Homo sapiens: one gene and its partner. The protein of the gene in region 1 interacts with the protein of each later gene in a pairwise test. Each region holds a gene or a part of one and is shown on either strand. Other genes may lie near its edges. The genes, in order: SHC4 and MET.

Region 1 (16,646 bases):
AATTTCTAAATTTAAACCTCCATCTCCAGAGACACCCTTCTCGTTGCTGATTCAGTTTCATCTCATGAATACACAGGGTCTTGGATAGGATTCTGCATGGGCAGCCAAGATATCTGTTGTATTCCTAGCTGTGTTTTTTATTTCTAGGTTGCCCTGGGACACTCTCTATATATCATTTTCCCTGAACAGAAACCATTTTGAGAGTAAGTACAACAGCATTCGTTAAATGCTCTCTGCTCTTCAAGGGCAAGATGTTGTTGTCAAGTTTAGTAGAAAAACAATTGAATGTAAAATGGGCTCATTGATTAAAGCTATACAACAAAGCATTTACATGTGATGACAAAAATAGGAAACGCATTGTGAGACATACCAACAAATCGTGTTGCTGAATTGTTAACACAAACTTCAATACCATAAAACTCTGCTGACTGATCTCCAGTTGACAACTTGCTGCATGAAGCCAACAGGCTACCAATATGTCCACACTTTCGGCTGTGAGTATTTGAATTGTGGGCTTACCAAGAATTCTGCTATGTTTGTGCCATTGTAATTGCTGTATATGGCACCTGTATATTGCAATTGTAACTGCTATTGAAATCACATAATTTAAGCAGATAGTAAACACACTGGGCTGGGCGAAGTGGCTCACGCCTGTAATCCCAACACTTTGGAAGGCCGAGGCAGGAGAATTACTTGAGCCCTGGAGTTTGAGACCAGCCTGGGCAACATAGCAAGGCCCAGTCTCTACAGAAATTTTAAAAATTAGCCAAGCCTGTTGGTGTTTGCCTGGAGTCCCAGCTACTTGGGAGGCTTAGGTGGGAGGATGGCTTGAGCCTGGGAGGTTGAGGCTGCAGTGAGCCGTGATTGCACCACTGTATCCCACCCTGGGTGACAGAGCGAGACCTTGTCTCAAAAAAGAAAAATCACACACCTCCCTCTCATCTAGATGACTCTGCCACCTCAAACTCAACATGTTGGGAATGGAACCTCATCCGTTCCCTCTCAACACTGCTTGTCCTTCTGTAGTCCTGTGTCTTCCACTGGCATCTCTCCCATCCCATCCTAGGCCACTTACCTCAAAACCTTAGGCAGGCTGGCCAGGCGCGGTGGCTCACGCCTGTAATCCCAGCACTTTGGGAGGCTGAGGCGGGTGGATCATGAGGTCAGGAGATCGAGACCATCCTGGCTAACACGGTGAAACTCCGTCTCTACTAAAAATACAAAAAATTAGCTGGGCATGGTGGTGGGCGCCTGTAGTCCCAGCTACTTGGGAGGCTGAGGCAGGAGACTGGCATTAATCCAGGATGCAGAGCTTGCAGTGAGCCTAGATCATGCCACTGCACTCCAGCCTGGGCGACAGAGTGAGACTCCGTCTCAAAAAAAAAAAAAAAAACCTTAGGGAGGCTGGACTGAATTCTACCCTCTTCATCAAATTATTCTTCCACGATCTCTCTATCTCTTTACATCATTGCCTGTATCAAGACCTTGATACAAACACTTCTCACCTTGACTATTGCTGTAATCTCCTCTTAATGGGCTTCCCCACCTCAAGGCACTTTGTTTGGCAGCGCAAATCCTCATGCCTCTGCTCAGACACCTAAACTTCTTAGGCTGATGCTTAAGACTTGTTATAATCTGGATCGAATCTCAGCATTATTACCCACCATTCTTTTCCAGCAGCTTTTACTCTGGCCCAACTAAAATCGGTGCCCTCCCTTGCGGATAACCTATAATTCCTTATCTATATTCCCTCATCTACAATACCTTAAAAAAATTATATATATGTAAAGTAATATAATTTTATAATTATATATAATTACAAATTAATATATATATAAATTATGTAATATTTATATATTATAATTAGTATATTAATAATTTTATAATGTATGTATACAAGTTATAAATTATACATATAATTTATATAATATATTAATATGCAGATTATATATTATATATAATTTTAACATATGAAATATGAAATAATATATAAAATAATATATTAATATTATTAAAATATTTATTATTAATAAATAATATAAATATAATACAATAAATATATTTATTAACATACAATAAACATATAAAATATATTTTTATAATATAGTAAATACATAATTATATAATAATATGTGTTTATTTTATATTATATAATTGTATATATTATTTTATATTATATAATTATATTTATAATTTTATATTATATAATTGTATTTATATTATTATATATAAAATTTATATATTATTAAATTTCATATATATTTTAGATAATATATAAAATTACATATATATATATTCCCTATGGTTAAACTTCTAACCGATCATTAGGGACCATCTCAGAGGCCATCTCCTTAGGAAGCTTTCCTTGATTACTCAGCTAGAAGACATCTCCACCAGATAGAAGACATATCTACTTTATCACACTGATGTATATGACTGTGTCTATAGGCATATATCATTTTCTACCTTGTATTATGATTATTGATCTCCTAGTTTCAAATGAAAGCTATAGTAGCAGAGTTTCCCAACCTGTGTTTCACAGAATATTAGCTCCATGAGAAGATGATCTAATAAGTTTTAAAATGGTGCATACTAGAGCCCACCTTAGAAACTGCAGTGGGGATGGAGGGAAATGGGAGTGTGTGAGAAATGTCATAAAGGTGGAATTGACAGTTTGTGATAAGAGGAGGCTGCGTGCAGCAAGACAGAGTGAGTGGTCTAGAATGCCCCCAGACTTCTGACTTGGACAACAGGGAGGCACCATTCACTGAGTGGGCGGAGGTGACAGTGGAGGTGTGGGATATCCACTGGTGTGCTTGGGTCGCGATGGTTGGCGTTAATATCCTGGAGGAGGGTAGGAGTAGGAAGACAAAAGACCAAGCCCTGCGGTTCTTTCTCAGTTCTCATCTTCCTTGAACACTCCACGGATTTTGACATGGTTTTGACCAACCTCTCTCTCCTGGAAACTCTCTCCACCCTCTCCCTAGGTGACCTGTCCTCTCTTCATCCTGCTCCTCATACTGCCCATTCCCTTCCTCCCCTTTCCATAGAACACCTAAATCCTAAATCCTGCTCTACCCTCTCCTTGTGGCAGCCTTGTCCATTCCACGGGCCTTGATGACAATAACAACAAAAATAATTTCTCCCCAGTCCTAACTATTCTATTTTTTGCTGGAGATTTCCACCTGGATGCTTTCGGGGTCACCTTGAACACAGCAGGTGTACAATGGGACTCATCCCCAGCCACATCCTTCCTACCCCCTCACTTTCCTGCCTGTGACCCATTTCCAAAGGGGTGAGAAGCTGGTGGCTTCTTCCTCCCTTAGGTGTCCCATCTTTCCCCTCTCTTCCCAGTGCCACTGCCTTTGTTACCACTCTGTTTCTTCTGGTTGCCTTTCTCCAGGCTCCCTCCTCTTGCATCCTCTCTGAGCATTGCAGCCCATGTAATCTTCCTAAAGCATATCTCTGCATTTGTCATTCCCCCATTTAAAAAAAAATCCAGTGGCTTTCTGGTGAAAACCCAGCTTTTCAGGTACTATACAACCTTGTTGTATCAGTCCATCTTATTTTCCTTCTGATTTCCTACATATGCCTCTTGCACTGTTTAACCAAGTCAAATCACTTACTGCTCCCCAAATACATCCTCCACTTTCCCACCTCCATGCCTTCACTTTGCCTAGGATGTTCTCTCTCCATCTCAGCCTATGGAAACTCTACCTATTTCTTAAAACTCAGGTAAGATACCTCTTCCTCCAAGAAACTTTCTCTAATTATCTCAAATGGAAGGTGTGCCCTTTCTTCTCTGAACTCCCATAATCCTTCATTGGTATCACTTTGGTTTCATTTATTATAACCTAACATTTATTACAGTAATGTGTGTGGACATCTTTGCTTTACTTTCCTACCACACCTCCTCATGCAAGAATTATGTCTCATTCACATAATGTAGTGGAAAGACCACTGGCCTGGGAGTAAGGAGATGTGAAATTTAGTCTTTGCGCTGCTGCCGATGAGCCCTGTGACCTTGGAGAGCTTAACTCACCATGAAACAGAACTTTGTAGTCTAACCTATCAGATGAGTTCTGAGTCCAGGGTTAAAGGAACCAAGCTGAGAGGGATGTGGGAGGCACAATGGCCTTTCAAGGAGCCAGGATTGGCATTAGGTTAAAAAAGATTAAGTTTGAATTATGCATTTTACCACTTCCCAATAAATGATTCATATATAATAAATTATTTGCTGATGATATTAAGGGTAAAAATCCAATTTCTGGGGTTGTCCCTAAAGCACATGGGTTTTTCAACTGGAATGTCAACCCCTCTAACTAGAGGAAGTTTTCAACCCCAAGACAGGCTCTGCTCTTAAAATTTACTTGTAAATTAGTTGTTAAAAATCTTAATGCATTTCCCTGTGAAAATGAAGTTACTAGTAAGAGTAGGATACCATGATTAAGATACAAAGCTATCTGCACAGCAAAAGAAACTATCAACAGAGTAAACAGACAACCTACAGAATGGGAGAAAAGTTTTGCAAACTATGCACCCAACAAAGGTCTAGTACTCACCATCTATAAGGAACTTAAACAAATTTACAAGAAAAAAAACCCATTGAAAAATGGGCAAAGGACATGAACAGACACTTCTCGAAAGAAGACATCCATGTGGCCAACTATCACATGAAAAAGGCTCAACATCACTGATCATTAGAACAATGCAAATCAAAACCACATACCATCTCACACCAGTCAGAATGGTTATTAAAATGTCAAAAAATAACAGATGCTGGTGAGATTGTGGAGAAAAGGGAATGCTCATACACTGTTGGTGGGAGTGCAAATAGTTCAACCATTGTGGAAGATAGTGTGGTAATTCTTCAAAGATCTAAAGACAGAAATACCATTTGACCCAGCAATCCCATTACTGGGTATATACCCAAAGGAATATAAATCGTTCTATTATAAAGACACATGCACATGTATGTTCACTGCAGCACTATTCACAATAGCAAAGACATGGAATCAACCTAAATGAAGATCAGTGATAGACTGGATAAAGAAAATGTGGTACATATATACCATGGAATACTATGCAGCCATAAAAACGAATGAGATCATGTCCTTTGCAGGGACATGGATGGAGCTGGAGGCCATTATCCTTAGCAAACTAATGCATGAACAGAAAACCAAATACTGCATGTTCTCACTTAAAAGTGGGAACTAAATGATGAGAACGCATGGACATATAGAGGGGAACAACACACATTGGGGCCTATCAGAGGGTGGAGGATGAGAGGAGGGAGAGGATTAGGAAAAATAACTAATGGGTACCAGGCTTAATACCTGAGTGATGAAATAATCTGTACAACAACCCCCCATGACACAAGTTTACCTATGTAACATGTACCCCTGAACTTAAAATAAAAGTTAAAAAAAAACAAACACTGTGTAAAGCAAACTACAGTAGTGGAGTTGACATGTTGGACTCCCATTTCAATACTGATGCTTGCTACTTATAAGCATCAAGGCCAGACAATGGGCCTCTCTTGGTGTCAGTTTCCTCTCCATCTACCCACTCCACAGGGTCATTGTGAGGTAATTGATGCAAGCTTCCTGCAACATACACAGAGCTCAACAAATCATAGCTATTATGTTAATGAGAATGTGATGTTATGTTCCTATATTTCCAAATAAATTATAATAAAATCTCATATTTCCATTTCCCTCCACAGAAAAAGAAAGTAAGCTAGCCTGTCAATGTCATTTAGCCCGAGTGCTCCTGGGTTAAGGTAGAATCTGTCCTAATGTGGACATCCTTGATGTACGAGTAGCTCATAGCAACATATGGCTCATGTGGCTCACCCTCATCCCATGACTTGAGATCATGATGTGGAAGCCACAGGAATATTGTTTGGGTGGAAAGTGGTGTGAACTATAATTTTTAGAGAATCTGTAGATTTAAAAGAGGGGAAAGAAGAAAATGAGAAGATGTAGAAGTGGCTTAGATTCGATTTACAGGAATCACTGAGCAGTTGTTTATTTTTCCATTTAATATTGCCTCCTAATCTACATCCCGGGTTCATACACTTCATCCCACTGGCTCAAGGTTTCTCAGCCTCAGCACTTCTGATGTGTTGGACCTCACAATTCTGTGTTGTGGGAGCTGCCCTGGGCCTTGCAGGCTGTTTAGCTGCAACCTGCCCTCCAACCACTAAAGGCCAGTAGCATTCACCTCCCCTCCCAGCTAAGACAATTAAAAATGTCTCCAGACATTACCAAATGTCCCTTGAGTGGCAAAATAATCCCCCGTTGAGAACCATTGCTCTGACTGGACTCAGCAGAGGTTCCCAAATCTTCTCTGCCGCAGAATCACATAAGCAGTTTGCCAAAAATGCAGGTTTCTGGGCCCCAGCCTCAGACATTCTGGTCCAGTAAGTCCAAGCTAGAGACTGGGAATCTGCATTTTAACAAGCATTTTTAACTGATACAGGTGGTCCTCAGCAAACTTTGGGAAACACTACAATGAAGAGTCAATGAAGTAAATAAACATCTTTCCAAAATGCAGATGCTTTTCGCTTTGCTGCACTGGAGGAGCAGGGGACTAGCGGATAAACATTAGGCAGCTTTAGAGAAGAAGGCAGGCAGGCCCTCCCTGGTGAGCAGCACAAGGCAAGACTTAGGGAAGAAAGTTCTGCCAGGGTGGCGCTGCTGGCCGGGAGAAAGTATGCCAAAGGAATGTGGGGAAATGCCAAAACCAAGTTTAGTCTATCCTGAGTTTTCGGCCCAGAGGCACCCCCTAGGCTATTGAAATCCATTCTCTTCCCTCCACTTGGGACCTACTGTGAGACAGGCTCTGTGCTAAGCCTTGTACATACAGTTTGTTATTTTATCCTGTCCCTAACTGTATGAGAAGGCTTATCAAGTTTTAGTTTTATTTCTCTGAGAAATTTCAGTCTCAAAGAACTGCTGTACAAATTAACTCTTCACCCGCAATCTCTTCATGAAATGGGAACAGCCTGTACTAATCCTAGAGTTCTACCACCCTTAAAAACTCTTTGCAACATTGTTACAATGAGAAAAAGCTCCATGAGTTGAGAAGGCAGGATCCCTCTCTTGGGTTTCCTGCAGCCCCCAGTACTCTGTCCCTTTGCGTAAAAGAAAGACATCCCAGTATGTTTACCCAGGAAGAGGACATTCTAAGCTTCTTTCCCACATATTCTGAAGGGGAAAATGAAAGACAAAGGGACTAGAAATGTCTTCACATTCCAATACCACGGGTGGGTGTGCAAACCTAGCCACCTTCAGGTGCAGACAGATGATGTAAGTGAGTGAAGCTGGGTAGGAGCGGGGTGTGGGGCAGCCTGTGTGCATCATTTAGATCACTCTCCTGGTGATGGAACTGTCATATTGGGGTCCAGGCTTGGTTCGGTCCCTCCATATGATAACACCGTATTGGCTTCAGAGTAATATGAACATGGAAATGAGAGGAAACCATATTGGGGAAATGACCCTAAGGTCATTAGGGTTGCAGCAATGAATGAAATGGGAGCCAGTCCATGCATGTGGTAACAAGTCCTGGCCCAACATGGACACACTGCCATCCGCAGGGACCTCCTTAATCAAAAGGTTGAAACTGGCCAAGCCAGTGCTCTTTGGTCTCCTTGCCACCCTTCTATGCTCCCTCTTTTCTTCTCACTGCTATTTTAAGACAATTTTCCCATTAGAAAGAAGTTTTTGTAATTATCTTTCTAAAAAGCACACGCAGCATTTTAATCATGTAGAGGCATTTGGTGTAGCATATTTATTTCAGGAAGTGGGGGAAGATGAAGCAAGGTGGAGGTAGAAAATAGAGTGCTGTACACAGAACTGGGAGCTCTTGTCTGGGCTCCACCACTGGTAGATGTGTGGTTGGGGGCAAGTCACTTCACATGTCTGAGCCTTAGTTTCCTCAACTGCAAAATGAAGTGTGTGGACTCACTGATCTCTAAGACTCTTGCAGTTAAGGCTCTAGTGTCCAGGGGCATGAAAGGACTGGACCAATCAAGGGATATGTGAAGGTCTAGAGAGAAGAACAGGGGAACGGGTCAAACCTGCCAGGCTTTCTCTAAGTTCCAGCAGAATCTACTTCCACGTCTACTCCAAGAAAGAAATAGGAAGGAAAATATAATACCCTCAATGCCAAGTCATCAGTTTTAGCTGGAATTATTTCCTCCCATCCATACTACCTCCCTCTCAACCACCAATAACTTAGAAAAGAAGGAAATTTACAAAGGCAGAAAGCCATGTTTCTTTGCTGTGGGTACCTGAGCGACCCAGGTCTGGCTTCATTGTGTAAACCATGGGACTGTCTCTCCAGGAGTCTCCTGGAGTCACAAATCTCCCTCTTTCAAGGTTAGAGTTACCAGGCTATGTGTGTGGCAAGGCCTTTTTCTCTTGGCTCTTTTGTCCAGAGAAAATAGAGATGGCTTAATTTCTGTCACTTCTGCAGTCCTCCTGTTGGACACCAAGTCCAGTCAGACCTAGCTGGCCAGACACATGAGGAATGCCATGTTCCCACAATCCCATCCACTATCGCTCACCTCTTCCAACCCTGGCCTGCCCCCGAACTAGCCCACCCTTCACCCCTCCCTGGAATTCTACTCTTGGATGCTGTTCTACCACCCTCCATCTCTCTAAAACTTACTGCCTCCACCCATGCCAGTATAACACCCTCCTTTCTGCCTTACTGGTGAAGCCAGCTCAGTGTTAGTAAGAGGGTGCTAAAATAGAAGTGAATGCATCCCTGAAGGACATTCTTTCTCTTCTCTGCTAACATAAAGTGGATAAACATTATTTCCTCAAGGTAACTCTTTCTAACCAAAAGAGATCCTAATAATAAGGGGTTTCAAACAGGTAGGAAAGAAGACCTGGAGTCTCAGGATTTTAAGCAGCATTTTGTTCAAACTTCTTCTTCTTTTTTTCTTTTTCTTTCTTTCTTTCTTTCTTTCTTTTTTTTTTTTTTTTTTTTTGAGACAGAGTCTTGCTCTGTCGCCCAGGCTGCAGTGTAGTGGCATGATCTCAGCTCACTACAATCTCCACTTCCCAGGTTCAAGCAATCCTCCCACCTCAGCCTCCCAAGTAGCTGGGAGTACAGGTGCATGCAAACATGCCCGGCTAATTTGTGTATTTCTAGTAGAGATGAGGTTTCACCATGTTGGCCTGGCTGGTCTCGAACTCCTGACCTCAAGTGATATGCGTGCCTCAGCCTCCCTAAGTGCTGGGGTTACAGGCATGAGCCACTGTGCCTGGCTGAAACTTCTTTTAAATATGAGAAAATGAGGCCCACAGAGGTGAAGTGACCCACCCAAGATCACACAGCTTAGTGTCAGAGCCGTTACTTCAATGCACGTCTCCAAACTCCTAGACCTGTATTCTCCTATGGAAAAGCTACTTGAGGTAGATGTAACATTGTGGTACTGTGGACTACATCTAGTCTAGACAACAGATGATTGACAATACTAGTTTACTGGGTCAGTGATAAGATACCTTAGACAGGAGAAGACGGATGGTAAGAGTATACTGTGGGATTTATAAAGGAAGTAAAGAAAATCTTTCAACACAAATTTCTATTTGCACACAAAGCTGATGAGCTTGATACCCAAGAAGGCCCATGTGAGCAAACACATTGCAATAAATGCTCTTGGGGACTGTTTTGGGTTGAATTATGTCCACCAAAAAAGATATGCCCAAGTCTTAACCCTCAGAACCTGTGAGTGTGACCTTCTTTGGAAATAGGGTCTTTGCAAATGTCATCAAATAAAGATGAGATTATATTAGATGAGAGTGAGCCCTAATCCAATGACTGATGTTCTTATAAAAAAGAGGGAAATTTGGCCATGGACACACAGAGAGAATGCATGTGAAGACAGAGGCAGAGATTGGAGTGATGCATCTACAAGCCAAGGAGCACCAAGAATTGCAGGCAACTGCCAAAAGCTAGAAGAGACAAGGAAGAGCTCTAAGATTCCTCCCCTAGAGCTTTTAGAGACAGCGTGACTTGGCTGATATCTTGATTTCAGACGTCCAGCCTCAAGAACTGTGAGAGAATCGATTTCTATAGTAGTAAGCCACGCAGTTTGTGGGACTTGTTACAGAAGCCCTAGGAAACTAATGCGATCTGGGAAACAGTTGGCTGGGCTGGGCTGAAGTGAAGAGACTGAAATCATGCAAATGCATATCACAAGGCAAGTTCCATGGGCTGGTCCTATGATGAGGCTATCCTGCACAGTGTGGCCTCTCATCTACGCTACTCCATTCCCATACTTCAGAGGCTGCCTGTCTTGCTTGGAGGCAAGTGAGAGGTTGGGAAGTGGAGGAACATTGGAGTGAGACACACCTGGTTAGGAATCCTCAGTCTGCTACTTACTAGTTGTGAAGTATCCTGTGGATCACAGACACCTGGGCTCTCAGTGTCCTCACCTGGAGAACACGGCCTTCCTCAGGGGGTTGTGGTGAGGGCCACTGCAGTTACCTGCCAAAGCTCGTCAAGGTTGGTTTCTTTGCCTCTGCTTTATTAAGTCTTTGAGCCAAGTTGAGAATTGGAAAGGAAACTAACATTTTCAACACCTCCCGTGTGAGAAAGGAACCCTACATTCATTAAATACTGGTGCTGCGAGGGGGCTTTCAAGCCAATTCTCTCATTTTAAAGAGGAGAACACTGTCACGTTGTAGATTTTCCACATTCCCCACTATGTTGGGCACCTGGGAGACCTTTAAATGAATGTCTGCTGATGGATGAATGGACTTGGAAAGGCCTCTAAAGAAAGGAGACTCAGTCTTATGGGGAGAATGAAGTCACATTTGACACCATTTAATGGGCTTTGCCCACCTCACTACTTTGCCCAGACTGGGATCTCACTGTCCTATTTCTGGCTCAATATCTTTCAAAGAATGGTTTGCTAGGCCCCCTTCCCTGAGAGACCTTCAGGTGGTCCAAAGTCTGAGCTTCAATTAAAGTTACTCAAAACAGGTGGTCAGGATTCATAAAGTGTTTTCAGCTATATAATTTATTCTACATCATAAGACCAAATGAAGAACCATTTTTTAAAAAGAATATTTAACCCAAAGTCAACTCTAGCTTAGCGCAGATGAAAAATATAGTCCCTATCATAAAGAGAAAATATGCAAGAAAACAAAGTAAAGAGTAGCTATAACAATCCCACTTTTTACCCAAGAGTAATATGCCTTCCATTCCCACCCAAGCTACTGCCTTTTTCACTTACCCCACTTTATTGCTCTCCATAGCACTTAATGCCATCTGAAATAGTATATTTTTTCATTTATTCAATTGAACCTATCTCCGCTCACTAAAATATTTCACAATGATTCAGACCTGGTCTCTTTTGTTTACTGATGCTTAGAACTGATTCATTTTGTTCATGGATGCCCAGTGCCTAGAACAGTTCCTGCTGCATAATTGATTCATAATACATATTTGTTAAATAAATGGATGAATGGATTAGCAAATAAGTTGGGGCAGGGAGAGGAGCAGTCACATGATATGGATAAGAAGGTAGAATATGAAGTGGCTTTTTTCCTGTAAACTTTGCCCCTAAATCCACCAGCCCTGTGTCAACTAGCCATTAAGATCATCTTTCTCTCAGTTCTCTCCTATGAATCCATTATTACCAAGCAAGGTTTGATTTAAAATTTTTTATGTGCTTTTTCCTACAGATGGGAATACAGAGCTCACAACTTTGGTTCATTTGGTATGATATTTTTACTGTAAATTAATAGCTTAGCATTTCATTTTTCAAAATTGGTTCACATCTCAAAAGAATTCTGAGGAACAGAACAACAACCAGGATGGAAACCTGTGGTGAAGACAGATAAGAATGGCACACAGGAGATTTGGGCTCTAGATCTCACTCTGCTTTAACTCATCTGTGTGGCCTTTGAAAAACCTGGGGTTTGGTTTCACCATTAAGGAATTGACCTTGATAACTTCTGAGTCTTCCGTCTTTCAAAGTTAGGATTCTATAAAACTTAATAAGTAAGTTCTTTCACGTATTTTGACTTCATAAGAGATGTCATTAGCTTGTATCGGACATCACGGATATCGGCAATCTTGTGAGGTTCATTTGGGTCGTGGGGTCAGCACTTTTTCTGGAGTCAGTGATTATTGCCATGAAAAGACAGATGGTGCCCCCATTAAAAATCTAAAACGCCAGAGGAGGCACTCCCTAGGGAAACTGGAGATCACACAGCAACTCTTTTCACATTTAAAATTGTACAGGTGTGTGGGTATGGGGAGGTTGCAGGAGGTACAAGAGGAAAGGAAAGCTGAGGCAGAGGCTAGAGGATGTGTAGGTGATGGTAAGGCAAGTGCAGAGAGCCCAGGTTTGGAGACTCACTCGTTTTCCCATGAGGGCCTGGCACACACCTAATCTTGATAAATGAGAATATGCCCATGAACTTTGAGTAGAAACATGAAAATATTTCCATTATGTGCCATGTCACTGTGGGTGAGGGCGAGAGCTGCATGTCCCATACATTTATCTGCTTTAGAGGTTTTAGTTACCCATTTGCCAGGACTGCCCAAGCCTGCTCTCTCTGTAACCCTTCCAGTGTTTATTATTTGAACTTCCCTGAGATCCTAATTGTCTGTTTGTAATACTGAGATCCTAATTGTCTGTAATACAGTTCTTGGGCTAGCTCTCTATACCTTCAGATCAGACATCTCGCCTGAGTGCTAGTTTTATATGACTGTCTACCTACATATTAGCATTATTTACAAATAATTACATTAAATTTAATATGTCAAAAACAAACTTAAAATGAGTCCATTTCCTAATTTACTCTGCTTCAGTCATTGGCATCACTGATGTCATTCTGAGACTTCAATTTGAAAGTTTTTTTTTCACCCTTTACAACCCTCCATCAATAATCAATCACAACCCCAATAAACAACAATGGTAACAAAATAATCAATCTACCCACTGCTCCATAAATGTTCACTACTCTATTAGTTATATTATGATTTGAAATGATCTGCTTAATCTCCCAGGGTTGTTGAGGCTTCTCTCATTCTTCTGTCACAGAATGCCTTACCATTCACCTCCTTTCTCTCCTCTCCACCTTAATCAGTGTTCTCATTGCCTCATACCTAAACTCTCAGAGTATCTTTCTTACTGTCCTCCAAGTCTCTAATTTTTCCCTGCTTCAATCCATGTCAAATAAATCAACCAACTGGTCTTTTAAAAATTACTTTCAGCAAGTCATGCCCTACAAACCTAGGAGGATTCTCATTTATCAATCACAGTATTTACAATCTCCTCATTTGGCATTTAAGAGCTTCAGTCAACTTCGGTCTCCCAAGCTACCCGTGATCTCTATTTGTCTTTATTCAACTCATACTTGTTTGAGTACTACAAGCCACCCCCTCCCTCAGTCACCCACTATTCTCCAGCATTCCCCTTCCTCCTCCATAAGGCCCAGCCTGTGTGATGCTCCCCTGCAGCCACCACAGTGACTTTGCTCCTATTCTTGGCCTACCAGGAATCCCCTCCTTTCTGCCAACCCAGATCTGACATTTCTTCCAAGATTCATCTTCTCCTGAGGGTTCCCCATGTGAATGAATCCCAGATCACATAATCTTTCCTTTTTTCTGAATTCCCTCAGCATTCTCATATTAGCTATCTATTGCTAAGTATTATTATCTTAGTATTTCGCATGTATTCATTGATCTCATTGAAATCTGAGCTGCAAAAGGGCACAGGCCAAATCTTCATTTGCCCACATCTTGACTGAGCAAGGACAGATACAAGGCCAGTAAGGACCTTGATTTTGCCCATAGCTCATGGACAAGGCCTACTTGCTGCAGCGTAGGCAGTAAAGGCAATAAATGTGCACCGGAGAGCTAAGACTAGCTCCTGGCACAAGGTTAGAGACTCGGACGTGTTTTGAGAAGTGTTTGTTAAATGCTGAAATAAATTTTTAAAGAATAATTCAAGCCCCTTACACACCATGTGTTTCTACAGCACAGAAATCTTTACTGTATTCATCCAAAATACAATGGCCAGTATAACCTACCAGGTCTCAATCACTGATCAGATTTGAAGTCCTTGACTCTTTTTGGCCAGAATACTAGGTCCAGCGGGGACAAAGTGGTGCCATCAGCTGCCTCTATCAGAACTTGCCTCTACACCTGCCAAGTACCCACAAGTTCATGTCCTACAAGTTAGCACCGGTTCATGTCCTTGAACCAAAGGCTGCCTGACTCCAGTACAAGTCAGATAGTTGTAGGGACATATATAAACCCAGCTCCCCTCCGCCTTGGTCCAGTTGAATCATGTCCTGTCCAAACACAGAACCCAGGCAGGTAACATTAGACCCCTTGCAGAAAGCAGAGAAGATGCCCCCTTCCACGGAAGTTCTTAGAGGGCAGAGAGGAAAATGGACTTACCCTCACACAGTAGTTCATGCCCATCCCCAACAGGTGCTGTAGAAAGTGCCTGTCCTGCCTGCTCCTAAGTGTTGGCTCCCCAGGGCCAGGAAGCGGGCACGAATCAGGGGTTAGGGCGGTTGCCCTGTGTCCCACCAGGTCCTGCTGCGGTGGAGGTGCAGTCCCGGACCTACTTAAACTGGTTTCTGGGGAAGAGGGGCCGCTGGAACCTGGGTCCCGGCTTTCCTGGAGCTTCAGCCGAGGCACCTCTTTGGTACCCAGGCAAAAGTTTTTCAGACTCAGCAAAGTGGCCGGGTTGGCCAGCTTCATGCTTGCCATGCGGGGGATCAAGGTGCACAGTGGGGTGGGGCTCTCCTGCGACGGCAAGGTGGCATCTTCAGTCGGCAGGTGAGGTGCCAGGGCGGGGTGGGGAGGCTGCGGCGAGCCCTTGTTCCCGACCGAGCCTCCGGAGCTACCTTCGTCCAAGGACGTGATCGACTCGTTCCGAAAGCGGCTGTACTTGGCCCTGTGCAGCATCCCGGGGTGCCCGAAGAGTCCTACATACAGCACGAGTCCTGCCAGGCTGTCCTGGCCGCGTTCTCGCATAGCCTTGGCAGTGCTGAAACAGGATACTGTTGCATAAATCGCCTCGTCGTCTGGTAGATAAACGGTGCAGACATCAGATACCTCAACGCCCGATGCAACTCACAGCAGCCACCTCTCCAACTCTGCTCTCGAGCTCGCCCACCTCGGCTCCCGGCCCCTTAAGGGTGACAGCCCATGGGGGAAACGCCTCCCCTGCTCTGATTTCAGTCTCTCCCTGGCCCAGGCAGAGGCACCAGTGTTCTCGCCTTGGAATCCTTGTCGGGAGAGCCTAGACCCAGGCTCCCGGCGGCGCGGGTCGCTCACGGCCAACTCTTAGGCGCAGAACCCGGGCGAGCGCCGGTCGGGGGGCCCGCTGCATCACTAGCCTTGCAGGAGCCTAGTAGAAATATTTAGCACCCGACTCCCACCCTCACCCCAGCCTTCTGTTCTGCACACAGGAACTTTCGAACCTGCTCCCTTCGGCTCTCACAGGGCGGGGCAAATGACTGGCCTATTAACCCTTTATTTGTTCCAGTGATTGTTCATTTAAAAAGGAAAAAAAAATGTATCTATGAACCAAAGGCCCTTTTGCCTGGGTTCGTTGATTCCAAAGGCTGCCCTCTCTTGGAAGATCTTGTCTTGCATCCCGTTCTGGGCCACCAGCCAGGAGTACTACTGACGGGCGCTGCTCCGCATTGTTTCACTGACTTGTGATGGGTCCGTGTTCCTCAGATCCCCTCCCAGCCTGCCTACCCTCGCTCAGAGCTTCCCTCCCTCCTGGATTCCTCTCGGAGCTTTTTTCAGAAGCCCATTTGCAGCCGAAAGCTGAGATGTGCAGGATGATACGCAGCGTGTTGAAATTTTTATGAATGAACTTTGCCGAATGAATTTCTCTGTGTGTGTGCAAGCTAATAAATCTGTGAATGAAGCTGAGAATAGCTGTAATTGACTGACGGTCTCAGAGGTGCTTGGTTTTTATCCAATCAGGAGGCAGCTTGATGACTCATACACCATAAATATACTAAACTAGTAGCCGAGAGAAATAAAGCTAGCGGGAGAGGAGGGACGTATTTTATTTTGTGGTATCTGATGAATGAGTTAAAAGGAAAGGCAATCTTTACTACAGATCATTAGCCGGGGAGCAGCAGGTTAAAAGATCTATTTTCTTTCTTGTTGAGATGGCCGGGAGGGCAGAGCAGAAGAGCTAAAAATTAGACCCATTGTTACAGGGATATTAGGACATATGGTTCACAACTCCTGTGGGAAGCCATGATGCATTTTTCTTAGAAACATAGTTCTTTTTTTATTGATTGTTGGTTCCATCTTCCGTCTGGTGCGACTTCCTGTACCTATCAAATGCATCCTGAAGACATGATGACAACTGCAAAGGCTTAGCACACAGGAAGCCAAAACCAGAGCTGGGAAAAGGAAATGCAGGTTCTTCAGGAATGGAGAAGAGGAAACTGCTGAAACACTGGGGGTGTGGGGTGTCGGGGTGGGGTGGAAATCACACATAGGAAGAGATAAAGAACTCTCAGAAAAGATTGCATTACTCCGTGTCTCAAGGCTTTGACATCTGAAATTGTTCATTAATTAAAAAATTAAGACAAACTGGCAACCAAAGGAATTAAGGGTGCCACCTTCAT
Region 2 (16,646 bases), on another chromosome or scaffold:
TTGAATGCTTGATTCTTATGCCTAAAGACTTAACAGTTAGTGTTATGATCATCAAAAGCACCTACATTTACTTTAAAAAGATAAAACAATAGGCCATGTCAAAAATCCCTTCTATCGTAGCCAGACACTACCTTGACAATGGTTTCCAACAGTGAATCGAAGGGACAGGAGGAATCTTCAGAATTTTTCAGTGCATTCAACTGCTCTTTGGTATAATCACATTTAAACAGCCCAAAACATTCTGGAGACAAGGTGGAGTGTAGTGGAGAGAGTGTGGGCTTTAGTGTCAGACAGACTTAGATGGGATGTGAATATGGCCTTTTTCACTGACATGCCTTCTGATTTGAGTGTCAGTTTCTTATATTCAAAACGTGGGGATAATGATATACATCTCATGGGTTGGCCATGAGAGTTGGAGATAAACTGTGAGAAACACTGTCCTTCAGTTATGCAGCACACCCTAGCATTTAATAATAGCTACTATGCTTATTATCCTAACTTGTGTTTTGGCCAGTTTTTGCCTGCCCTCATAAAAAATGAGGAAGTTGGCACAGTCCCTTGGGTGAGACCACTCCAAATACCTGGTGACTGTTTCATCACTTTAGTCCTCTCATCTAAAGTTTAAATAGTGTTATTTCTTCTTTTCCCACCCTTTAGCCATCTTGTGGTTTTCCTCTAACCTCGGTTCAAGTTCTTGAAGCCCTTCGAAAATTGCCCCCCAAGACAGAAGCCACAGTAACAGCCTCCCATACTAGAGAAGTAAAAACAAATAGGAACCAGTATTTTAACTCTTTAAAAAAGAGTTAGCTCAGGCCAGGCACTGTGACTCACGCCAGCAATCCCAGCACTTCAGGAGGCTGAGGCCAGACGATTGCTTGAGTTCAGGAGTTTGAGACCAGCCTGGGCAAACCCCATCTCTACAAAAAATAAAAAAATTAGCCAGGCATGGTGGCATGTGCCTATAGTCCCAGCTACTGTGGAAGCTGAGGTGGGAGAATCACTTGAGCTAGGGAGGTTGAGGCTGCAGTGAACCGTGATCACACCATTGCACTCCAGCCTGGATGACAGAGCCAGACTCTGTCTCAAAAAAAAAAAAAAAAAAAAAAAAAAAGAGTAAGCCCATATCCCAACTGAGATTTAGCAAGTAAAGATATAGGATGCTGAGTTAAATTTGAATTTCAGATAAACAGTGGATAATTTGTTTAGTATAAGCATGTCCCAGGAATGTATTTTATATGACAATCCTAGTCGTCAGCAAATGGGGAAAAATAAGGGAACAATAATCTTTTTTACCCACAAAACTCACATTAAAAAGATTTGGGCCAAATCTATTTATCTGTTGGGGTAGAATGTTTTTAAAGCTTTCTGTGGTATATATGTATTGCAAAACTGCATAGCATTTTTTCATTTGGGTTTGCTTCTGTGCATCTAAAACATGTTTTAAAAGTTCCTGGCAGGTGGTTTTAAGTGTCATATGAAGGTATAACTATATGAAAGGGAGTAAAGAAACTTTTTCCCCTCTATAGTTGTACTGTATGTGGCAGCCTGTCATTTACATGAAATTTCTGAAACAGAAAAGGTATTCCCAGATTGATTTACATGCTTTATTTATAATAAATGAGCTTATTAAAAAATTCAAATACAGGTGGCTATAGGAGATAAACAAGTTAAGCTTTGTACAGGAATGATTTGCATGTGTTATAATTAATGTTTCCAGGGGGTGCTCTAAACGGTTTCTTGATTATTACACAAATGTTGTTTCTTTGACAGATAGTGCTTTTATTCAGATTCTTATCTGTTTTTGCATCCCCTCTTAGTCCTATAATCATTTAAAAAGTTGAAAATGGCTGCCTGTTAGCATAAGAAAAAGCCAATTGTGCATTTTCTAGTTGTAACATATGATTGAGACTATTATCCAACTCTGATATGGCAAGAGTAAAGATAAAAAGAATAGAATGCCATTATATCCTCAAGATTATCCTTTATAAATTCATATTCTGTCAGCAAACATCTTTGTCCTTTTAAGAATGGTTGAAAGTACTCAACTTCTTGGAAAGAAGAATAAATGGACATTTGTTTTTACCATTGTACATAATGTAAAAAATATTGTTCAGAAAATACATTGAACTCTCAGAGCCCTGATTGACAGATGGGCTTTTGTCCCATTAATAAATTGTAGGTCAGACAAAAATGTTTCATTGCCCTTGAAAGTGTGAAGGTTGAACTTCCCCAATGTAAAGAAAGTGCTAAAATGCATGAAAACTTATACAAGTATTTGTTTTCGTATTTTTCAGCCAAATGGATGGACATAATTTTGTGATTCAGACTGTGTAGCAGTGTTACCAGTTTTTGTTCAATTAATCCAGGAAGACTGAATAACATAAATCCGCAAATCACATTTGAGAAACATCTTTCCAAGTCTATATATTAAAAAAAAAAAGAGGCAATCAACCTTTGCCAGTTGCATTCAAATACTGGGTTTGGAAAGGATAAACCGACTGAATAGTCAGAATGTGAACCACTGAAGGGAGACAAGTTGGAGAGGAAGCTGGTACATTACTCACGAATGAATCAGACATCCCCTCCCTCCGTGTTTGAAAATGTCCTCGGCATAAAGCATGGTACAATTCCAAACGAGGAACTATGCTCAGGATTGGATTTATATGACTGATCAGTTTCCTCTGCTGTTATCGAAAGCAGATATCAAATGGCTGTGGAGGAATGCAGGTGGTGAGTGAACCCCATTCTTTTCACAGTGGCTGTCACACAAAGAAAGAGAAATCAGCACCCAGGGACAGAGAGACAAAGGGGAGAGGTGTGAGGGTGCCAAAGGCCAAGCCCCCTCTAGTCTCAAAATGCAGAGCGTTTGAATGAGCTGGGCGTTCCTTGTAGTGCTATTTTCTCTTAGGTCTGAATTTATTTTGCTTATTTGCTCACACCTGAGAAATTTTCTTGGAAATCAATGTTTGCAAGTAGACTCTGACACTGGTATGAACTAAGGTCTCTTTTTCACGATCAAAATTGTCAGTATATGACATTTTCTTATTTAGGCAAAGTAGACAAGAATTGTTAGAAATCATGAGAATACTGTGAATGTGAAGGAATAGCCAAACCTGGCCACATTTTGTACAGATGTGGATTCCTTGGGTGAACATAATGCAATCCTAACAGTGTTGGAAGAAGAATTAAAAGTATATGAATAGCATTATGTTGAGATCAATATGTCACCAGAAAATAAAGAACCAAACAAAACTGTTTACAAAAATCTTAAACACTTTTAAAAGAATAGAGAATGCTGAGCAAATAGATTCTCATAAAACTAGGATAGTACAGAAAAATAAGTACAGAATCCAATTTCTGAAACTCAGTAAACACTCTGGATCCTTGAAAAATCAATAAAGCAAAAGGTTAGGACAACCTGAAAACAACTGTGCTTAGGATTGCATTTACGTAACTCATCAATTCAAGGAAAACAATTCAGGGCAGGTTGTGTGTATATAGGCGGTATGTGTATTTATGGGAGAGGAAAGAAATAGAAGAGAGAAGAGAGGGCAAGAAATTAAAACAAACAACTTTTCCAACCATACAGGTGTTGCCCCTTGACTGGGAATCTCCACCTTCCACCTGCAACACGCCCAGGCTGTGCTGTAAAGGTGTGCGCATGTCAGTGGAGCAGCACGGGGGAGAAGAGCTAACTATGCAGACAGAAAGCGGGGCCAAGGAGTATTTCAGAGGGGATACTACTTGAGCTGTGTCTTGCAGGATAAGTTGGAGCTGCTCAGGTGCAGCTGAGGTAGGGGACAGACACTTTGGGTGGAGTGGACTCACACACGGGCACCTGGGGAGAAGATGCAGGGTTGTCCAGGAAGCTGCAATTGGCATAGAGGCCAGGTGGGCTGGGTTGACAGTGGAAAAAGGTATAAGATTAGGCTGTGGCCACATTAAAGAAAGTCTGATATGTTTTGTTGAAGGATCTCCAGAGAATCCCGAAATCCATCTCTCCAATATCACTTTTGTCTATGCAACAGCTATTTAAGACCAAATTTGACAAGTATTTACTGGGGTCCTACTATGCATCAGATGCTTGGGATACATCAGTAAACAAAACCCAACACCCCTGCTCTTGTGGAACTTACTTTTTAGCTGGGGACAACAATTAATACCCATAACAAGCTGATGATGTAGTGTTTCAGAAGTTGATGTGTGTTACAGGGAAAAACAAAAAGTAGGGCTGGGGCATCAGAACTGCCTGGAGGAGAGGTATGGGGATAGGTTTGTAGCTCGGAAATTGGGAAGGTGGCTTTTGTGGACCCAGATGTCTGAGATGGGAAAAGAGATTTCTGGGCAGAGGCAAGAAGGAAGAACTAAATGTGCCTGGTGTGTCTGAAGCACAGCAAGGGGGCCAGTAAGCCTGGACTTTGTTGACCGGGAGCTGAGATCAAAAGGACAAAGAAGCAGAGCATGTAAGGCCTTGTAGGCCCCTGGGAGATTCAGGTTTTTATTGGAGTGAAATGGGGAGTCATTGCAGGGTGTTGAACAAGGGGGGATTATGTTGGAATGTATTCACCTCGATCATATGGGAGAGAAGACTGCTAGTGGCTGGGGGGCAGTTCAGGGCAAAGGTGGAGTGGTGAGGCCAGCTGGGAGGCTCCAGTGGTGTTCCAGGAGGGGGACCCTGGTGGCCTGGGCCAGGAAGGAAGGGGAGAGTGGGGAGATGTGGCCGAATTCTGGTTCTATTTTGAAGACAGAGCTATTTTGTCACATGCCTCAGATCGAACTCCATCCGGATTTACTGATGGAGTCAGATCTGAGGCATGTGAGAAAAAAAGGAGAATATGCCAAGGATTTTGACTTTTTTAACAGAGAGAATGGCTTTGCCAGTTACCGACATGCAGACTCTGGTTGGTGAAGCATGTTTGTAGGATATGAGGAGACCAGGAATGTAGTTTTGCCCACAATGGAGGTTTTTTTATTTTTATTTTTTTGACATGGAGTCTTGCTCTGTTGCCCAGGCTGGAGTGCAGTGATGTGGTGTTGGCTAACTGCAACCTCCGCCTCCCAAGTTCAAGCGATTCTCCTGCCTCAGCCTCCTGAGTAGTTGGGATTACAGGCACACATCACCACACCTGGCTAAATTTTGTATTTTTAGTAGAGACGGGGTTTCACCATGTTGGCCAGGCTGGTCTTGAACTCCTGACCACCACCCGCCTCACTATCCACCCGCCTCAGCCTCCCAAAGTGCTGGGATTACAGGCATGAGCCACTGCACTCAGCCTGACATACATTTTTTAGGCATCTAAGTGGAGATGCCGGGCATGCAGTTGGATGTTTGAGTCCCGGGGTTAAGGAGAAAGGTCTGGGCTAGAGATTTAAATTAAGAAGTTGTCAGCATGTAGACATCATGAAAAGCCATGAGAGTGGATGGGATCTCCGAGGAGAGGGACTGTAGAGAATGAAGAGAGGAGGACTGAGTGATGGCGCCACCAAAGCTAATAGGTCAGGAGACAAAGACAGATGGGACAAGAGACCAAGAAGGAGCAGTTGGATATCCTTCTGTTATCTCCATCTACTCCCACAAAACCTGGTCTCCCTCTCTGTATCCTACCTCAGTGCTGAACATGTCCCATATTTCTAGGACATCATCTTTGACACCCACCTACAAATATTTTAAACATGTCCATCTCCTTATTGGCTTCCATGCCCATGGTCAGGGCAGTGTCACTTCATACCTGGATTACTACAACAGCTTCCTCGCTGGTCTTCCCTCTCCATTCTCACCCTGATCATCTGCCCCCTAGCATACCAGAGATATCTTTCTAAACTGACAATTTGACTATGTCACTTCTTTGCTGAAAAAAAATGTCAACCCCTTGGCAGAGCTTACAAACCACATACCATTTTTTTCTGCCCCACTCTCCAGTCTTGCCTCTTGCCATCACACCATTAGAAATCTAGGCTCTGGCCACTCTGCCCTCTTCCAGTTCTTGAAGCAAGCCATGTGCTCAGCCACTCTGGGTTTCAGCACATGTGGATCCCTCTTTATGGATATTCTTGCCCTCAACTTCACATGGATAAGTTGTCCTCTCTCTTCAAGCCTCATCTTAGGGAACAGTTCTGGGAAGCCTTCTCTGATGCATCTCTTACCTTCTAGTAAGGAATTAGGAACTCTCCTATGTGCTCAAACATCAAACCTGTCTTCCCCTTATCTAGCCTTTACCACACTATATAGTAACTTATTTATCTGTGTCTCCCATCAGAGTGTAAGCTCCACTTTTAGCCCTTAGCATAGTGTCATTACATGGCACTTAGTAAGCATTTATTGAATGAATGGACAACAGAATCAATCAATATACAAAAGAATGTTCCTGAACAAAGTTTCTAGCATTATGGAAAGAAAGGAAGGACTAGATTATACACATATTAAAGTGAGAAAAATTATGTGGGAATTATTCAATATGGATTTTGATTGTAGAGGAGACTGAAAAGCCAAGAATGGCTAAAAAATTGTCTATCTGGGTATCATAAACCAAGGTAAGGAAAATAGGGAGAGGAGACTTTGAGGGTAAAAGTAATTAGTTGAGTTAATAACCCTGATGTAGCTTCTGGTCATCTAAGTGGTGGAGTCTGTAAGGTAGCTGACAACATGAAAGTGGTGGTCTAGAGAAAAGAGGAAGTGAGAGAGAGCGGTTTGTGAACCACTCGTCCATCGGTGTATTGGAAGTCACTGAAGTGAGATCACTTGTGAATGTGTTTTGTAAGTAGAAAGGAGGAATTCAGATGGAGCCTTACAGAAGACTAGAATCTAACCTTTATGTTTTAAAGGGTAAAAAGAACAATTGTAGGCAAAGAAAATGTGGAGAGATAAGCTAAGGAGAACTTTCGAGAAGGGAGAAATAAAATGTATGGTGTCAAATTCTACAGACGGGTCAAAAGGGATAAAAACCAGTGTCCATCAGATCTGGCCATGAGGAGGGCACTGGTGATTAGAATGAGGACACTTTCTTGGGCATGTGGTACAGACTGCTTGAGTTGAATGACTTAAGAATGAATGGGAATGAAGAAAGTAGAGAAACTGAGTTAGACATTTATTTTCAAGAATTCATTATTTAAAGGCTAAAATGAAAACAGGAGTGACTACTTAAGGAAATTGTGTATTCAAGATCCTATCAGGATGCCTGATGTGTGTGTTTTATTTCTTTCTAGAAGAATCAGTAAGTTGAGTAAGAGGTGAATGAAAAATAGAGAAGCCATGGAATACTATGCAGACATAAAAAAGAATGAGATTCTGTCTTTTGCAGAAACATGGATGGAATTGGAGGCTGTTATCCTTAGCAAACTAACAAAGGAACAGAAAACCAAATACTGCATGTTCTCACTTATAAGTGGGAGCTAAACGATGAGAACCTATGAACACAAAGAAAGGAACAACAGACATTGGGGTCTACTTGAGGGGGCAGAGGAGGGAGAGGAGCAGAAAAGATAACTATTGGGTACTAGGCTTAATACCTGGGTGATGAAATAAACCCTGTGGCACGAGTTTACCTATGTAACAAATCTGCGCATGTACCACTGAGCCTAAAATATAATTTTTTTAAAAAAGAAAAATGGTGAGGGAGATTTTAAACACGGGAAGAGTTGTAAGGTGGGTAGGATAGAGGGAGGAGGTGCTCACAGGTGTGGGGAACAACAGGGTCAAGACTTAGGTAGAAAAGACTGTTTCATCCTTTGAGACAGAAAGAGGTAATAATGGGTGACATGGAAACAACTGGGCTTGTGTTTACTCTCTAAACTATAAGGAAAGATCTTATACTGAGAATAAGGAGAGCCCAAAAGATGCAAGAGCTTAAGAAATGGTGAGAGTTTGGAATCACTGCAGTGGGCATGGCGAAAAATTGGACTGGAGACATGCAAACAGACTTGCTGGTTAAGAGAATCAGGTGCTATGAATTGGGCAAAATGGGAAAGAACCAAAACAAGAATGAAAGTTCACTCCAGGTCATCCTTATCCTAATGCACAATGTCCATTCTCATTGAACGTCTTCACTGTCAGTAGGCAGGTTTGGGCATTAAATGGTTACATAATTATGAACTCAGTGGTAAATTCCTTGTAATGTTTATATAATTCATCAGGTCTATGGGCCCTTATTAACAGAAAATGCCAGCATTTAATTATTTTTATTTCAAAACCGGTTTTATTGAATTCTGCAAGGAATAACTTCAGGGAAAAGAAAACACATTGAAACAGATACTCTCCTCTCTTTTCAATAAAGCCAACAGTCTAAAGATGTTAAAGAAATAAATCACATATAATGATCATCTAACTCTGAAAATTAAAACCCATTTAGGGATTATGAAGGAACCTTGATCCTGGATACCAGTCTAAGTTATTCGTCTAATATCTTTAATAATGTTTGGAAAGTAATTAATCAACTTATGACATAGATTCAAGGGCTGTCACCTTTCATTGTCATTAATGAAACTGTCTGGGATTTTATCTGCACTTTTCTGGTGATTTAAAGAACAATTTTTTTTTGGTAAGTTCTTTGAAGACCAAAAGAATGTTTAAAATCACTGGGCCTTGACGTACAGATTTCAATGAACAATAATCCAAGTATGTGTTAGTGAGACCGAAATAAAATTTAGAAATATCTTAATTTTGACAAGACAGAAAGGGAATTTTTGAAAAGTCCAAAATGCATATTCATTTATGTTAGGAGGAAGTTTTTTTTTTTGTCAACAATCTCTGCTTTGGTTACTTCTTTACATAATACAAATTACAAATATCATACTATTTGATACTCATTAAAAACAACAATAGCTAAGGTAATATTTTAAGCCCAAAGGTTTGCCTAGGTCCTAAGTGATCATATTGGCTTGCTGTCTTTGTATTAACCAGATGGTTGTGAGACCACAGTCTCACTTTGGACAGTGTAGCCATTGGCTGGAGCCATATGAATTCTGCCTGAAGTGAGGGCAGAATCAGATGAAAGTGGCTCACCTAAGACCCTCAGAGGAGCCAAAAGACAAGTAGTGAAGGCAGGCCTTGATAGAAGCTTTCCTTGAATCTTTATATCACTGTCTAAATTCGTATTTAGAATAGAAAAATACAATTCCTACATCCATGCTAGTATGAACTTTGTATAGTCAAGGACCAAAGAAATGGTTTCAAGGTAGTATCCTCAAGGAAAGCTAATATATATCCCCAGAGACAATATCCCAGTGGAAAAGGATTACAGATAACAGGTTTTAGGGCCATAACTTTTGGTCCCAACAGGAATTTATAGATTATAATGAGCTAGATATGCTAGAATATTTCAGTCATGAAAATGGTGTAAAACCTTTATAAATTTGCCTGAGTTTTCTTTTTATATTTTGATTTCCTCAGAGAAAATGGAATTTCATTTAGAGTGCCTGGGAGTAGATAACAGAGTGCTTAGAACATGCCTCTGACACTCAGAATAAAAGCTTTCTCTGCTTCTGTGACATATTCCTGCTATTCTTCCTGGTAACTGAGGGGAGGACAGACTAAGAGGCCCAATTTAGGACTGGATAGATGATAGTCTATCTTTCTCCAGAATCAAACCACATGTAACACAAGTTGGCAGAAATTTAGACTTTGTAAAGCAATGTCTAAATTTTCCCACCATTTCCCAAGGTGGGAAAATGGTAAAGGTACCATTTTCCCATGAGCTTTACTTTATTCCATACCCTCCCTCCCCCACTTTTTCTGAGACAGGGTCTCTCTTTGTCACCCATGCTGGAGTGCAGTGGTATGATCTCGGCTCACTACAGCCTTGGCCTCCCAGGCTCAGGTGATCCTCCCACCTCAGCCTCCTGAGTAGCTGGGACTGCAAGTGTGCGCCACCATGTCCAGCTACTTTTTGTAATTTTTTTAAGAGGGGGGTTTTGCTATGTTGCCCAGGCTGGTCTCAAACTCCTGAGCTCAAGCCATCCACCCACCTTGGCCTCCTAAAGTGCTGGGATTACAAGCGTGAGCCACTGTGCCTGGCCTATACACCATTTTGACCTGCCTCTTTCCTACTTAGAATTCAGGCAGCCTGATTCTTAATGGGACACCCTCTTTATGACTTAGGGTGCACTCAAGCCCATGACCCTTCAGCATATCCCGCCCACCTTTCCCCTTCCTTTGCTCATTGATCCAATATCCCATCTAAACCTCCAGGCCTTCTCCTTTATTATCTATTTTCTATATATGGCATAAGAATTGTCATAAAAAATCTTTCTTAAATTGAACTACATTTTCCCAACTGTTCAAATACTCAGGCATTCATTCATTTTTCAAGTTGTGAGACCTTTACATTGGAATTTTAAAAGTCATGTAAATACGAATGTGTACAAAAACACTGATATATGATTTATTACTGATGGTTTGGTTCCACCAATGAAATAAAAATTAGGCATGTCTAAACAAAGCTGTATAAATAAGTCAGTGCTGATACAGTGCCATCTACAATTAAATGTCAAAACAAGCTGTAATGATAATGTATTTAGTAAATCTTCAGGTTAACCTAAGAGAATCTCTATTTTAAGACCCTATTAACACAATTTTCCTTTTACCCCCCCGCCCCCTCAAGATATAAGAAATTGCCAATTCCATCACCCCAAATGTGATACTAAAACAGCATGCTTTTCACCAGGAAAGGTTTTCTGAGGATAAAAATGTGATGAGCCATTAGAAATTCACAATATGGTATCAAGAAAGATCTCAATGCCTATATTTTAGCATGATAGTTTATTTCTTTAAGAGAGAAGGAGCTGCTGTCTCCAAAGCAGCCATTCTTTAATCATGTCATTTGAAATGCACTTAAAGCTATGTCAAATTCATATAGGAAGTCTGGTTACCAGAAAATACACATTCACAAACAGGAAATCTAACTACAGCAAGAAGGTGTTTTCCCCCGACACAATAGAGTTCAAAGATGTGTCATCCATGTAATTTGGAGCAATACCCAACACCACTCTTATTGCTGAGTATTCCTCTCTCCCCTCTCCTATATTATGACAACTCGTGATTATAGCATTACGTTTTCTAAGCCTGTTTGGACTTGCTGCTCTTGCTTATACATACAAGCGACCTGCCCTTTTTCTGTGCATAGCTTTCAATCAGTAAGCATGTCAAGGTGGGAGGAAGGATGACAGGAATAGTAAAAGGGGGAAAATCAATTTTCAGAAAGCATATGGCAACAACTGAATATTTAATCAAATTAGTCTAGAAATTCCTTCCTATTTTCAGCACTCTTTGCAAGGCAGTTGCTTCATGGTGCAAAATGAATTTCAATAAATGTCATATATTTAGTTAGATGGCTTATTTTAAAAATTTGTCGAACAAGGTCACTGACTTAGAATAGATCTTATTCCAAGGTATGACAGATGGATATCAATATTGAATAGAAGAACTGACATTAGCTAGAAGTTTCTGGGCAGAAGAAAGAGTCATTCAACACTCTACAAAATACTTACTGAGTACCTACTATGTGCCAGAATAAAATGATGAATATTTGGGCTTTGTATTTATATTACAAAACAGAGAGGAAATGTGTCAAAATAATTTCCTTGGGGTTAGTAAGGATTACAACTGAGTATTACTGGTAAACAAGGACTTTAAAAAGTGCTTAAAATTTTCACATTGCATCATTCAAACATCCATACTGTCATGGTTGCAAGATTTTAGACCTAATCAGATTTTTGAGGATGCTGTTTATTGACGCTTAGCAAAAACCAACTTCCTATTTTTTTCTGGAACAAAAAGGCCTTACACAATTTTAGAGATCTCTTGGACATCAAAGAGCTTAGAGGGACATACAGTTTGTGAGTAATGATTTAAGATTTAGTGAATCAAAGACACATGGATTAAATTTCCCTTAAAAGACCCCTAGGTTTAAAATTTAATAGCTAAAATGCTGGTCTAGATACACTCTGGTCCCAATGCTGGTCCCAAGCAAAGCCAAAACCTATTTTTAAAGCTAGGTTGAATTGTCTTATGGACCCAAACCTTGGCTGGGTTTTCCTTTCCCACATGATTAGGCCTCAAAGGAGGCAACCTATCTCTAATAAATTTACCACTTCTCTTTTTCTCTGACTTGCAAAGACCATATTATTTCAAAGGTCTCAGCTTTGAATGTCTTTCTTTACATTTTTAATAAAATATTAAAAATTAGAAATCTTCCACGGTCTTATCAAACAGTTATTCCCCAAGTCATTCTTTTTTAAAAAAAAACATACATTTTCAAATTGGACCTGAGAGTCTAGGTGCTGCCTCAGAATTCCAACTATTAAGGAGTAGGAGACCATTTCAAAACAGGAATAGACCACTGATCTTAATATGTATACTGTATGTGCACTGTTTCATGATATATTATTATATTTGCATTTAAAATAGTAGGAAGAAATACAGTACATAATCTCCCTTTCTAACACAGTGGCCTTCTGGAGGGCTGCTAGCTTGGGCATTTCACTGAGATTTTAGGATTAAAGGAAACAAATTAGTGCACAACCTGTGAGCTTTTATTCCTTTGGAAAAATAGATTTTAACACTGATCTGATTGCTTTTAAAGGGCACTGGAAACCAGGAGGGCAGTGCATGTTTTGAATTTCAATGGCAGGGTAATAACAACGGGTGAAGTTCAGTCATTTCCAGAGACAGAGACAGAGAGAGAGAGAGACAGAGAGAGAGAGAGAGAAAGACAATATTCCAAAGGGGGAGTTTATCCTGAATCAGAGAACTTGGAAATGAAATTGATGCATAAAGCCATGATGGATTCAGGTTTCAGAAAACTACTACTTCAGTTTAAGAATGAAATAACTAGATTACCCTTTAGTTTAGAAACGTACATAGTTTGATGTAAAGTATGTGGGCTGATGAGTTTAGAAAAATAACCACGTGCCAATAGGAACTGACATAAAATATTGGTTTTAAAAAATTTGTTTAGTTAATTTTCTGAGAATTTTAGAAAATAAAATATTTTGTAGAAGCAGTCCTGGGGCTCTCGGGCCATGCATGCTGCTGCAATTGGGACCATCAGGAGCCCAATCTGGCTTGCAGACTTTCTGCCACTGTAAGCTGTATGGTGTTTTAAAGACACTGAGTCAACATTTTAAAATTGGGAGAGTCCTAGCTTCTCTTGAAAATCTGAAAGATACTACCACATGGGCCCATGCCATACACTGAGCCTCACAACAGCTCTAATCACGCCAAGCAGTGACTGCCCCTCTGCTTTTCCTAAGCAGTTTGTCAATCCCTAGTGAAATGGTTAGTTTTCCTCATTTAAGTTACCTGTTTGCAAATCTTGATACAGGATATAAATAGGGGAATAAGGGAAAAGGAAGAAAAGAGGAAGAAAATCCAATGCAGTGACTTAATACTGGAAAGGAAAAGGAAGGAGAGCGAGGGGGAAAGAAAGAAGTGCATAGCAGACAGAAGCTGCACACCATCAGCAACTGCCTCTTGCTGTCTTTAGATTTATACTATGGAAGGGATCAGTGAAAAAAGCCATGGGTATCCTTCTCAACAAATCCCACTGTGACAGGCTCACAGTGTGGAAAATAAGAAGGAAAATTGTCTGAATGGAGCAATATCTCTGATAGAGGATGGAGTATGGGATGGGACCAGGCGGATGCAAAACAAAACAAAACAAAACAAAACAAAAAAACAAAAAAAAAAACAAAACAACACTCTGGGTCTTCTTCTTCCATGTCTCATAAACCAAGAGATGTGGGCCACTCCTGTATCTTCATCTTTAACATGGTAGCTAATGATGGCAGGCACTGTCCAGGTATTTCCCTACAAAAACAGGGGCACTATTCAGGTATCTCCCTCCAAAATCAGGGAGTCTATGGACAGTTGTGCAAGCTGTGAACTGCACAATTTCAGGAAAAACAAGATGAGAATAGCACTCCTGAGAAGTGCTCCTCATATGCGCCTGGCTCACTTCCTTATCTCCTTCAGATTCTAGCCCAAAGCCCACCTTTGAAGACAAGCCTTCCCTGACCTCACTATTGAGTTTTTCAATCACCATCCCACTCTCTCTTATCCTTGACAGTCACTATTCTCTTTTCCATTTTATTCTACCTTGAAGCTATTATCATCACCTGACATACAACACATTTCAGTTATGTATTTCTTTATTGTTTGCCAACTCAATAGAACAGAGTGTCATGAGGTTAGAGGTTTTCATCTGTTTTATACTCTGTGGAAATGCCAGATTTTAGAACTATGCCTCGTAGGTTGTCAAAAAATTGTCCTGAATGAATGACTAAATCCTCATTCACATTCTTGGAGTACAGGAACCTGGCTTTCACGATAACTTGTGATTCTCTAAGCACATTTCATAATTGCTATCCTTAATTATATTAGGAGAGATACATTTTCAAATTCTATTGCCCATTATATAATCGCCTGTGGGCCCTATAGCTACATAATTTATTATAGAAATTAAAATCAATGGGAGTAACCTACATAAACATACTTGCACACATTTATGCAATCACAGAGAGAAATATGTGTACCTGGGTATGTGATTACAAAGTTAACTTTTTTATTTCACTGAGCTCATACCTCCTGCTACAAATGCCACACGTGATTTTTTCTCTCAATTAAGTTTTACAGCTTATAAAAGCACTTTTTTCATTTTGTCCCATGAAAAGCAAAGTAGTCAGATTTTACTGGATGTTTTTATTGAAACAAATCCCAAGCGGAATATACTAACCTGTTTAACACAGCTGAAAAGATATCTGAGAATGGGCTTTCTGATAGAAGGATAGATTACAAAATTATTCACGGCTCTTAATCTGATAACAGGAGCAGAATGCCCCACACATATGAATGAAACCTTTTCTCGGTATGTCTCACTACAAAGAAAAGAAAAAAAGAAAAGAAAAGAAATTAAAAAAAAAAAAGAGAGAGAGAACTGGAGAAAGAGAAGGTGACAAAAACTCCAGGGACTAGATATGTTATATTCATCATTTACCACTATCTTAAGCATCCCTAATGATGCCTCCATGGAAAATGTTTCCAATAGTTGATGGCTGAGGAAAGGTGGTATGGTGCTATTGAAATAGCATGGAGCTAGTCTCAAGCTCAGTTTCCTTGTCTATAACATAAGAATGTTAAGATGTTATCAGACTTGCCTATCTTGTAAGGTCGTTTTGGTATCAGAAAGGTGATGTATGCAGAAACAGCTTGAAAATGTTAAGGTTTTTAAGTTCCAAACTTTGATTTTTAAAAAAAAATTCTATTATTTCATAGCAAATAGGATGATTTTGAAAGCGTTTCTCATGTGATGTCCTCTTAATAATTATGAATTTGTGTTCATTTAATATGTGATATTTGTCTGTGTATCTAGATCATAAACTTCTCAAGGGCAGATTCCATTTCTTTCTTTTAAAGAAAATGCTGTAGTACCTAGCACATATGATACTCTACCTATAGGTCCTAGCTATTTTTGGTCAGGCAAATGTGGATCTAGCAGCAACTCAGTGTCAGTTGAGAACACATCATCAAAGTGATTCTGAACTAACATTAGTCAGTGTATCTATCATTTATTACTGAGAAGTGACTATTTATTTTGCACTGAGCAAAACCCATGAAGAAACTCTGCCCTAAGGGCTTGGTGTCAAAAACACTAGTTTCAGCATACACCAGCCAGGAAAAGAAGGCTCACTTCCGGACACTTGAGTTTCTACATACATTTTCTCCCCTTAAGAGGGCACAATGAGGAAATTGAGTATCCTATGAATAAACACAGCAGACCAAGGAAATCTTAGGGATTTAGACCACGGAAAAGAAAGCGTAGATGGCTCTGGCGAGAATCACTAAGCCTAATGCCTAAAGAAGAAACGAGCAAACTGGGCTGGAGAAATGGGGGCACGGAAGGCCTTGAAAGCAGCTCTGACCAAACCAAGGGAAAGGGTTGAGGAGGAAGAGGACAGAGAAATGGGAGGTAATCTGAATGTGTGAGGAACTGTGCTCACCATGGGGGTGTTGCCATGTCTTTGGTGCAGCCACTTGGAGAAAATAAGCCAGTTAGAGGATGTTAGCTCCTCTGAGTTATTCACGTTGTTTTGAGATGACCACATTTGAGAAAAAGTTAATTTGAGACTATTATGTAGATCTGCAGAAGGATAATATGACTAATGCTACTTCAAACACTATTTTAAAAACAGCTAAGGAAATTGATTTTTGAAATGTATTTCTTAGTCTAGCCCTCATTAAGACAATTTTTTTTTAAAGATTTCAAGATTAATGCAAGGCATATACTTACATAGTCTTAAAAGGAATTTATAAAATATGGGTATTTCTCCTGCTTAGCAAAGGGTCATTTTTCTCTATTATAGGTTTAAAAGTAGTGAAAATATTAGTTATGAGCTTTCGTATTGACTGGCTATGATTAATCTGGTACATTTTTTATCATGAAGATAAACTCCATCAACTAATTTTGAAAGCATGTAGTATACATCTAATGTAAACCCCTACTGCCATGTATCAAGAACAAAGCAATTTTGAAAAAGCAGTAGTCGGCAGACTGTCTTCTATATGCCACAAATTCCATCATGTTAAAAGCAAAATATATTTAAGTTAATAACTATAGCTTATACACCATTAAGTTTGAAAACGGAATAGAATTTTT

The links.
Region 2: the proteins of SHC4 (region 1) and MET interact in binary tests that used the Homo sapiens proteins (3 or more experiments, as listed by UniProt).

What each region holds. Positions count from the first base shown.
Region 1 is NC_000015.10:48,947,995-48,964,640, forward strand, and holds the start of SHC4 (SHC-transforming protein 4), read right to left. Parts: upstream 15,926-16,646; 5' UTR 15,022-15,925; coding exon 14,437-15,021; intron 1-14,436. UniProt on the Homo sapiens protein: Activates both Ras-dependent and Ras-independent migratory pathways in melanomas. Contributes to the early phases of agrin-induced tyrosine phosphorylation of CHRNB1.
Region 2 is NC_000007.14:116,674,025-116,690,670, reverse strand, and holds part of MET (hepatocyte growth factor receptor isoform b preproprotein), read right to left. Parts: intron 2,731-16,646; exon of another isoform or gene 2,644-2,730; intron 1-2,643. UniProt on the Homo sapiens protein: Receptor tyrosine kinase that transduces signals from the extracellular matrix into the cytoplasm by binding to hepatocyte growth factor/HGF ligand. Regulates many physiological processes including proliferation, scattering, morphogenesis and survival.